Linked DNA regions of Homo sapiens. The protein of the gene in region 3 purifies or fractionates together with the protein of the main gene of each other region. This does not show direct contact. Each region holds a gene or a part of one and is shown on either strand. Other genes may lie near its edges.

Region 1 (3,659 bases), on a different chromosome or scaffold from region 3:
ATTAGATAGATACATACATACATGGATAAATAGATTAGATAGATAGATATATAGATGCATAGATTAAATAGATGATAGATTAGAGAGATACATAGATAGATGAGAGATAGATAGATAGGATAGATAGATACACACATACATATAGATAGATAATGGTGATGATAGAGAGATAGATCAATCAGATAGATAGATACATAGATAGAATAGATACATACATATGTACGTACATAAATTAGATACATATATACATACATACATAGATTAGATAGGTAGATACATACATACATACATGGATAAATAGATTAGATAGATAGATACATAGATACATACATAGGTGCATTAATAGATTAGAGAGATAGATGATAGATTAGAGAGATACCTAGATAGATGAGCAATAGATAAGATAGATAGATATGTACATACATATAGATAGATGACAGATAGATAGATAGATAGATAGATAGATAGATAGATAGATAATGGTGATGATAGGTAATAGAGATAGATAGATACATACATAGATACATGGATACATAGATAGATAGATAGATAGATAGATAGATAGATAGATAGATAGATAGATAGATAGATCATACATACATACATACATACATACATACATAGATGCATAGATACATAGATACATGGATACATAGATGGATGACGGAGAGAGAGAGAGAGAGGAGAGATTCTCTATACTAAAAGCAGGATCTTTCCACGTCAACACTATAGACATTTGGGGCCGGGTGATTCTCTGTGGTGGGGCCATCCTGTGCAGTGTAAGGTATTGAGAAGCATCCCCGGGATCCACCCACCAGATGCCAGGAGCACCCCCACAGTTGCGACAACCAGAACTGTCCTCAGACATTACCCAGTGTGCCGTGATGAGAAAAATCACCCCTAGTTGAAACCACTGTCAAATGGTAGGCAGATAAATGATAGAGATGAGAGATAAATGCTAGAAAGGTATAGATAGATGACAGACAGAGAAGATTAATAAATAAATAGATATAGGTGCCAGAGAGCTAGATATGATATATAGATAAATTGATAAATGATAGATATGATAGATAGATATAGATGGATAGATAGTCACTAACAGAGACTCTCTCATGCTCAGGCAGGGTGTCAGCCTCAGCACTGCTGCCATGTAGGGCTGGAGGATTCTCTGTGTTGAGCCTATCCTGTGCACTGCAGGGCACTGAGCATCTTCCCAGGCTCCACCCACCACGCCCCAGGAGTACACCCTCCAGTTGTGACACCCCAAACTGCCCAAGATATAGACAAGCATCCCCACTGGAACAGAATCTCCCGCAATTCTGAACCACAGGGTGAGAGGCAGGCAAGATAAGACAAGATGATCCTTCCAGAGACCTGGAAGGAGAAGCAAGATCATGTCCCATCCCCCAGGTCTCAGGGAGAGAATGGGCTGGGTCAAGGGACTCTGGATCACTTCCTTCCATTTCTCCATCTCCCAATGTGCTGTATGCATGCTCTTGTTACTATAATAAAGTAAGTAGAATTGAAGAGACTCTGTCGTTACAAGCCACACATGTGTAGATTAAGCAGATATTCCCTGTGCAGGTCAGGTCTCAGGGGAAATGGAGGATTTATTCTCCACCTTTCCAAGACCAAGGGCCCCGCTGTGTGTACGTGTTATTCTCATCAAACATGCTTATCTGCCCGAGGACTAAATGCTGGCTTCCACATGTGACATTTTTACTTGCAAAACTGGATCAATGGGGAGCGTCATTTATACTGTCCCATGCAACAAAGGGAACTGAAAAAGTGCAGGAATGAGGAGACTCAAATCCACGCACATTCAGAGACTCCAATCCACACTCAAAGAGACTCAAATCCAACTCATTCAAAGAGACTCAAGTCCACACTCATTCAAAGAGACTCAAATCCACACTCATTCAAAGAGACTCAAACCCACACGCAATCAAAGAGACTCAAATCCATACTCATTCAAACAGACTCAAGTCCACTCATTCAGAGACTCAAACCTACACGAATTCAAAGAGACTCAAATCCACACTCATTCAAAGAGACTCAAGTCCACAATCATTCAAAGAGGCTCAAACCCACACGCATTCAAAGAGACTCAAATCCACACTCATTCAAAGAAACTCAAATCCACACTCATTCAAAGAGACTCAAATCCACACTCAATCCAAAGACCAGAGCCAGCCTCTTGGAAGCACTTGCTCCTCCGGGCTTCCCTGGGACGTTTAAAGTGGTTTTGAAGATGTCGTATGAGGATGAATGCAAGACTTTGAGTTCACACGGTGCTGACTGGCAGCGCCTGCTGCTCAGAGCTGTGATGGCCTCCTCAAGGGGCAGTTGTGCAGCAGTAGCTCTGATGGAATCTCCAGGAACCCACTCTCCAGCAAGGAGCCCTGTCACATGCATACCTGCATGAGCCTCTCAGCCAGTGGTTGAAATGGGCATGTTGCAGACAGCCTCTCTGTGAGATGCAATAGATGAAACCTGAGGCTCAGTGAAGCTGGAGGCCTCCCAGGCACTAGCTGCTCAGTGAAGGCGCTGTTGTCCATCTACAGTGTCCATATGTCCATCACAAGCTCTTGGCATGAACACAGGAAACTTCTAGGATACTCAGGCTATTACCCTGGGGTTGGAGGCATTCTGTCTCCAGGTATTTATTTATCACTCATCTGTTCTTGGGGTGGAGGAGAATGAGACTACTCCTGCACTCAGGACAGGGACAGACCAGCAGGTGGCCACACGTGGAATAGAAACAGGAGATACCCCTTCAGTCTCAGCCACAGGGAATGAATGAGCAGGGTCCCTGTAGGGGCTGTGACTTTGTAGATGAGAGACCAGAATAGATTAACATGGCCTCAGTACTGTTTGTTGGATGGTTGAATGGATGGCTGCATAAATAGATGGGTGAATGAATAAATGAATGAATGAGTGAATGAGTGGATTAGTACATTAGTGAGTGGATGGATGGATATGTAGACAGGTGAATGAAGAGTGGATGAATGGATGAATGGATGGATGGATGGATGGATGGATAGATGAGTAAATGGATAAGGAATGAATGAGTGGATGAATGAATGAATGAAGGGATGATTGGATGGATGAATGAATGAGTAGATGAATGAATAAATGGATGGATGGATGAACAGATGGATAGATAGGTGGATGAATAAGGAATAAATGATTGAATGAATAGATACATGAATGGGTGAATGATAGTGGGTGTATTGATAAATGGGTGGATGACTGAATGGATGGATTGAAGGATGAACGGATGGATGGATGAGTGGATGGATAAGGAATAAATGAATGAATGAATAGATAAATGAATGAGTGAATGAATGGATCATGAATAAATGAATGGGCAAATGAATAGTGGATGTATGGATAAGTGGATGGATAAACGGATGGATGGATGGATGGATAGATGAGTGGATGGATAAGGAATGAATAAGTGGATGAATGAATGAATGAGTAGATGAATGAATAAATAGATGGACGGATGAACAGATGGATAGGTAGGTGGATGGATAAGAAATGAATGAATAGGCTGGGCGCGGTGGCTCACGCCTGTAATCCCAGCACTTTGGGAGTCTGAGGTAGGCGGATCACCTGAGGTCAGGAATTTAAGACCAGCCTGGCCAGCGTGGTGA
Region 2 (3,659 bases), on a different chromosome or scaffold from region 3:
ATAGTAACCAATTCTTTTCCATTACAAAGTATATTGAAATTTATTTTGAACCTTTCATTGACATTGATTCATTTAGTTTAGAGTTGAGAACTAGGTAGAAATTGTTTGAAAAGATATGATGTTTCAGGAAGCATGTCACTTAGTGGAGATTGGATGTTTTGAAAAACATTATTTGCTTCATGCTACTTTTGGATCTCAAGTGTGTTTTATTTGACTCTTGAGCCTTTAGAGAACAAACCTTATTATTCTTTACTATATCAGATAGCCAAACTATTTAACCAAACTAGAATTGCTTTTAGTTGCATTTTCCTTGGTGACTGAGAGTTCCATATATTTTGTAAGTGTTTATACATAGAAGGAATGAATGTTTCTTAATGCAATGTTCTTTTCATTTTATCTGATTCCCTTCTGTCTCAGGTACAAACAGGTACTTCAGGCAAGTGGCATCTGAATTTGGATTAAAGATTTCTTTTGTTGATTGTTCCAAAATCAAATTACTAGAGGCAGCAATTACACCAGAAACCAAGGTAACTCAGCTCATTTTCAGTTTTGCCTGTTTTTCCTTCGATGTTTTGTTTTCATCATTTCTGTTTACTAGAGGATATAATTTAATGTGAATAACAAATTTTATTTTATGCCATTGGAAACATCAACAAAATTAAGATAGACTGTCATCTCCGGGGTGTTATAGCATAATGGTAGTACATGATTTCTGGAGTAGAATTCAAATTGTGATTCTGTTATCTTAGTTAGTATATTATCTTGGGCAAATTATTTAACCAAAGTCTCAGTTTCTTCATTTGCAAAATGGAGATAATTATACCGGTTTTATAGAAACGGGAGTGTGAGAATCAAATGAGATAATGAATATGAAATGCTTAGTATAGTTCCTGGATACATGGTAATTGTTAAAAAAATTTCTATGCAGGAGCACCTAATTTTTAACTGCATAGCCAAAAGAGTATTGGTAACAGAAGTCATCACAGAGATTGGACTATAGAAAAAGAAGCCTGCCAAACCCCCAAACTCGAAGCACAGTGGCTTTGCCGGGCTGTAAGGGATGCTGCCCAGATACTAGTTAGATGTGGAGAATAGGCCACAAGCAATCTTTAGCTTCCATCCTGGGAAATTTGTATGCCACCGGAAGGTGTTTTGTGTCTGAGTGAATGGCATATGTGATATTCTTTCTTGGGACCTTATTTAAATTCTGTGTGGATAAAAGAAGGACCAGTGTCTTTTATAAGTCAGCTGTTTACAACTTTTTGCTAATGATTAAAAGGTTAGAATTGTACCCAAGATTATGTTGCAATGAATGCTAAAAAATAAATATCTTTTCATGTACAAATAATTACTTTGCACATTAACATGGTTGAGCTTTTGGTAATTAAGGTTTGTTTCCAGAAGAACTTGTTTTTTATCTTGCTTGGGAGAAAAGTCACATTAAAATAGCTGGTCTGAGTCTTTTTTTTTTTTTTTTTTTTGAGACGGAGTCTCACCCTGTCACCCAGGCTGTAGTGCAATGGCGCAATCCCAGCTCACTGCAAGCTCTGCCTCTTGGGTTCAAATGATTCTCCTGCCTCAGCCTACCGAGTAGCTGGGATTACAGGCGCCCATCACCATGCTCAGCTAATTTTTGTATTTTTAGTAGAGATGGGGTTTCACCTTGTTGGCCAGGCTGATCTTGAACTCCTGACCTTGTGATCCGCCTGCCTCAGCCTCCCAAAGTGCTGCGATTACAGGCATGAGCCACCGTGCCGGGCCCTGGTCTGAATCTTTCTAAGGGAGGAAAGCAAATTATGAGTACAGTAAGTCTTGTCAACAGAATTTTATATAGTGACTCTACCAACTTGAATTAATACCTTTTCCTTCCTAAAATATCAGGTTTTTCACTTGAAGTAGAATGTTTAAGTCCATGTAAAACCTACTTTTTATTTATTTGGTAATTTTTATTTTTTTTATTATCAGTAGGAATAATAAATTCTTACCAGGAATAATTTTTATAGATTCTTTAAATAATTCAAGATTTTTGTAGAATATGTATTATTTAACCATCTTATCTTTTCCAGAGTAAAACTCTAAAGTCAGAAGAGTTTAAACCAGATCTCTTGCCCATTTAAATAACAGGTAATAAAAAAAGAATCAGCTGGGCACAGTGGCTCATGCCTGTAATACCAGCACTTTGGGAGGCTGAGGCAGGAGGATCACTTGAACCAGGAGTTCAAGATATATAGCGAGACCCTTTCTCTGCAAAAAAAAAAAAATAATAATAATAATTGGCCGAGCATGGTGGCACATGCCTGTAGTTCCAACTACTGGAGAGGCTGAGGTAGGAGGATCACTTGGGCCTGAAAGGTCGAAGCTGCCGTTAGCTGTGATCATGCCACTGCACTCTAGCCTGGGCAACAAAGTGAGACCCTGCTGCTTAAAAAAAAAAAAGAAAGTAATTCAGTACAATGGCATTTCGTTCAACAAATAGAATTCTTTTCTTTGGTCTTTTTGATAACTATCAAGCATCTACCATGTGTCTGAATTGTGGTAGGTTTTGAGATATAAAGGTCATTGTTACTTTTTAAGTAGGCGGTAACCACGTTTTCTGTTGTGGGTGTCACTTTTCTTCTTTAGTCTAAAGCCCATGCTCTTCAAGTCTTAGATACTTATTCTATAGTTTCTAGAGTTTCTGGCATTAAGTTCATATTAAATATATTTTTGGCATCATAGGGATAATTCTCTTTCATTAAAATTCTAGGATGTATTCTTACACAATCTATGTTATTCATCTCTGAGACAAAATTTCCAGACACTGAGCTGTCTTTGGAATACACTTTCTTTTTTAAGAAAAGTACAATAATTAACTTTAGTACTTTTCTGTTTACATGTACGTTATCTCACTTGATCTTTACAAAAAATTCTGTAAGATAGGTATTACCAACCCAATTATACAGATCAATAGGATACATTACATACCTACGGCTTCAGAAATTTGCAGGTAAGGCTGGGATTCAGATTTGAACCTCCCAACATCATCATCCATGTGTTTCCATTATACAATGTAGCTTCCCAGATTGTTACAATATATGAGATGTATGTTTGTAAAGTATATTTTTACAAACTACTGTTATTTGCTGAATTATTTTAGCTTGTTTGGATCGAAACCCCCACAAACCCCACCCAGAAGGTGATTGACATTGAAGGCTGTGCACATATTGTCCATAAGCATGGAGACATTATTTTGGTCGTGGATAACACTTTTATGTCACCATATTTCCAGGTAAATGAAAATAATTTTTTTTGGCACAATTAGTAGACCACATATATCTGTAATTAGGAAAGAAAGGACTTGCTTAAATTAAAATCATGATCAAATTCATGAAATCTAATCATAATTAATTATTTACTGGATCGAGAATTAAATTTGGACCTCTTCTACCATTAGTTAATATCTTTTCAAACCTATGTTAATATCCTCTATGTTACTTTGTGTTTTTTATTTATTAAAGCTTACCAGTTCTCAGGGCTGTGCGTGGTGGCTCACGCCTGTAATCCCAGCACTTTGGGAGGCCGAGGCGGGCGGATCAGGAGATCAGGGATCAAGACCATGGTGAAACCCCGTCTCTACTAAAAATACAAAAAATTAGCTGGGCGCAGTGGCGGGTGCCTGT
Region 3 (3,659 bases):
CGCTCCTAAGTCTCTTCTGTTAATCTTTTGAGTGACAGAGGCTTAAGGATTGGCATCTTTTCCAGCTGGCTTTCTAGGAAACCAAGAGCATGCCCTTTCAGTTTAACTTTATCTGGCTCACTAATTGAGCTCCCCCGAGGCCTAGACCCCAGTCCTCGCCCCCTTATTTGCTTCCTGCCTTCCTTCATAAAATTCTTGACATTTGTTTGACTCTGGAAACCAGCGGCTATCGAGTATCAGATTGGAGGCTATTATGTAGGAAGCACCTGATTTTGGGGTCTCTCAACTGTGAGTGGTTGCTTGGCTAGCTGGGACGTTGGTCAGGATTCTTTTAATCACTGAGGAGGCAGCCGTTTCTTTAATCCTGCACAATTTACTGAAAATGTTTCAGGGGAGGATGGGATGGGGGAGGGGCTCTCCCTGGCTGATGGTGTCTGGCCGATGGTCAAGCCAACTGCCTGTCTTTGTTAAATTCTGTGTCTCCCTTGAAGATGGAAAGCTGGGTGAAGGCAGGAACTGTTTCTGTCTTGTCCAGGGATTTATCTCCAGAGCTCAGCAAGGGGCCAGACACCTGTCAAGATTTACTTTGTTGGTACTGATGGAATGAACAAATAAATGCAGATAATGTGTGTTTGAGAGTGATTACAGGTTCCACTTTGACTGGAGGCAGGAACTAGATTTAAGAAGTGTGAGAAATAGGAGATGATGCGAAGATCAAGAGGTCTGAGTCAGAAATGGATTTTTATTTTTTAAATTTGACAGATAGCATTGTATGTATTTATTGTGCACAATATGATGTTTTGAAGTATATATACATTATGAAATAGTTAAATCTAGCTAATTAATGATAGCATTACCTCGCATAATTATTATTTTTGTGGTGAGAGCACTTAACATCCACTCTTTGCATTTTTCAAGGATACAATAACTTGTCATTAACTATAGTCACTTTGAATAGATCTCTTGAATTTATTACTCCTCTCTAACTATAATTATGTACCCTTTGACCAACCTCTCTCCTTTCCCTCTCCCCTCTTCCTTCCTCAGCCTCTGGTAACCACTGTTCTACTTTCTACTTCTATGAGACCAATTTTTTTAGATTCCACATATGAGTGAGATTATGCAGTATCTGTCCTTCTGTGGCTGGCTTACTTTTCTTAACGTCCTCCAGGTTCATCTACATTGTTGCAAATGACAGGACTTCATTCTTTTCTGTGGCTGAATAGTATTCCTTGTGTATATATACCATATTTTCTCTATCCATTCATCCACTGATAGACAATTAGGTTGATTTCATATCCTGGCTATTGTGAACAATGCTGCAATAAACATGGGAGAACAGGTATTTCTTCAACATACTGATTTCATTTCCTTTGGATAAATGTCCAGCAGTGAGATTGCTGGATCATATGCTAGTTCTGCTTTAAATTTTTTGAGGAATGTTTTTACTGTTTCTCATGATGGCTGTACTAATTTATGTTCCCACCAACAGTATGTGAGAACTCCCTTTTCTCCATATCCTTACCAGCACTTGTTGTTTTTTGTCTTTTTGATAATAGCCATTCTAACTGGAGTGAGGTGGTATCTCATTGTGGTTTGAATGCATTTCCCTGATGATTAGTGATGTTGAGCATTTTTTTTTTTTTTTTTTTTTTTTTTTTGAGACGGAGTCTCGCTCTGTCGCCCAGGCCGGACTGCGGACTGCAGTGGCGCAATCTTGGCTCACTGCAAGCTCCGCTTCCCGGGTTCACGCCATTCTCCTGCCTCAGCCTCCCGAGTAGCTGGGACTACAGGCGCCCGCCACCGCGCCCGGCTAATTTTTTGTATTTTTAGTAGAGACGGGGTTTCACCTTGTTAGCCAGGATGGTCTCGATCTCCCGACCTCATGATCCACCCGCCTCGGCCTCCCAAAGTGTTGGGACTACAGGCGTGAGCCACCGCGCCCGGCCGAGCATTTTTAAATATACCTATTGCCCATTTCTATGTCTTCTTTTGAGAAATACCTATTCAGATCTTTTGCCCATTTTTTCATTGCATTGTTTTTTGTTTTTTTTGCTATTAAGTGATTTGAGTTCTCTGTGTACTTTGCATATTAACTCCTTATCAGATATACAGTTTGTGAATATGTTCTCCCATTCTCTAGGTTATCTCTTTACTTGGTTAATTGTTTTCCTTGGTGTGTAGAAGCTTTTTAGTTTGGTATAATTTCATTTGTCTATTTTTGCTTTTGTTGCTTGTGCTTTTGAGGTCCCCAAACCAAAGTCATGGAGCTTTCCCCCTATGTTTTCTTTTAATAGTGTCATAGTTTTGGATCTTACATTTAAGTCTTTAATTCATTTGAGTCAATTTTTGTATATGGTGAGAGATGAGGGTCTAATTTCATTCTTCTGCATGTGGATATCCAGTTTTCCTAACACCATTTATTGAAGATTTTCCTTTCCCCATTGTGTGTTCTTGGTACCTTTGTTGAAATCAGTTGTCTGTAAATGCGTGGATTTATTTTTGGGCTCTGTCTTCTGTTCCATTGGTCTATGTGTCTGTTTTTATGCCATTACCATGCTGTCTTGGTTCTATAGCTTTGTAGTTTATTTTGAAGTCATATAGTGTGATGCCTCTGGCTTTGTTCTTGTTACTTTTTACTTTGCTTTGGCTATTCAGGGTCTTTTGTGGTTCTACAAAAATTTTAGGGTTTTTTTTTCTATTTCTATGAAGAACATCTTAGTATTTTTATAGGGATTGCACTGAATCTGTAGATTGCTTTGGGAAGTATAGACATTTTCACAACATTTGCTCTTCCAATTCATGAACGTGACATCTCTTTCCATTCATTTGTGTATTCTTCAACCTGAAACTTATTTCTTAAATGTTTTAGATATTTGTTATTTCTTCTCTCACCTCTTGATCACTTGATTCATCCTTCAAAACCCAGTTCCAACATTACTCTCTAGGAACTTTTCTACAGAGCATTCTTTTTGCTTAGGAACGATTACTCTCTCCTTCGAACAACTTCTTTTTTTTTTTTTTTAAGGAAAATTTGTATTATTTTAATTATTTTTATGTACAGAAAACTCAACAGTGTACATTTAACCCAGTTTAGTGGCAAGTTCTTTAGCCTTTGCCTTTTTGCGCTTGGCGATACGAGCCACAGACTTAGGACCCAGGACATTGCCACCCCAGTGACGGCGGATCTCATCGTATCTGTCATTGTAATTGGTCCTGATAGCTTCCACCAGCTTAGCCAAAGCGCCTTTGTCTTCTGAGTTCACCTGTGTGAAGGCGACAGTGGTGCAGGTCTTCCTGTGGACTAGACGTCCCAGTCTTGCCTTCCCCTTGATAATGCAGTAAGGGACCCCCATTTTACGACATAGGGCAGGCAAGAAGACAACCAGCTCGATGGGATCCATGTCGTGTGAAATCACCACCAGCTGAGCTTTCTTGTTCTCCACCAAGGTGGTGACAGTGTTAACTCCTGCTCGAAGGACAGGTGGTCTCTTCTTCGGGACGTCCCCTTTGCCAGCAGCTTTCTTCTCGGCCCGGGCCAACAGTCTCTGCTTCTTCTCTTGCTTTGTCTCTGGCCTGTACTTGTGGGCCAGCTTAAGCAGCTGAGTAGCTGTTTGGCGGTCCAGGGCCTGGGTGAACTGGTTAATCGCAGGAGGCAC

What was found.
Region 1: the proteins of SMOC1 (region 3) and P2RY8 purify together in Homo sapiens (co-immunoprecipitation; one large-scale study listed by IntAct). This does not show direct contact.
Region 2: the proteins of SMOC1 (region 3) and CTH purify together in Homo sapiens (affinity purification with mass spectrometry; one large-scale study listed by BioGRID and IntAct). This does not show direct contact.

What each region holds. Positions count from the first base shown.
Region 1 is NC_000023.11:1,527,090-1,530,748, reverse strand, and holds part of P2RY8 (S-geranylgeranyl-glutathione receptor P2RY8), read left to right. Parts: intron 1-3,659. UniProt on the Homo sapiens protein: G protein-coupled receptor for S-geranylgeranyl-glutathione (GGG), an endogenous metabolite present in lymphoid tissues.
Region 2 is NC_000001.11:70,421,149-70,424,807, forward strand, and holds part of CTH (cystathionine gamma-lyase), read left to right. Parts: intron 1-417; coding exon 418-527; intron 528-1,985; exon of another isoform or gene 1,986-2,124; intron 2,125-3,136; coding exon 3,137-3,268; intron 3,269-3,659. UniProt on the Homo sapiens protein: Catalyzes the last step in the trans-sulfuration pathway from L-methionine to L-cysteine in a pyridoxal-5'-phosphate (PLP)-dependent manner, which consists on cleaving the L,L-cystathionine molecule into L-cysteine, ammonia and 2-oxobutanoate.
Region 3 is NC_000014.9:69,882,257-69,885,915, forward strand, and holds part of SMOC1 (SPARC-related modular calcium-binding protein 1 isoform 1 precursor), read left to right. Parts: intron 1-3,025; exon of another isoform or gene 3,026-3,659. UniProt on the Homo sapiens protein: Plays essential roles in both eye and limb development. Probable regulator of osteoblast differentiation.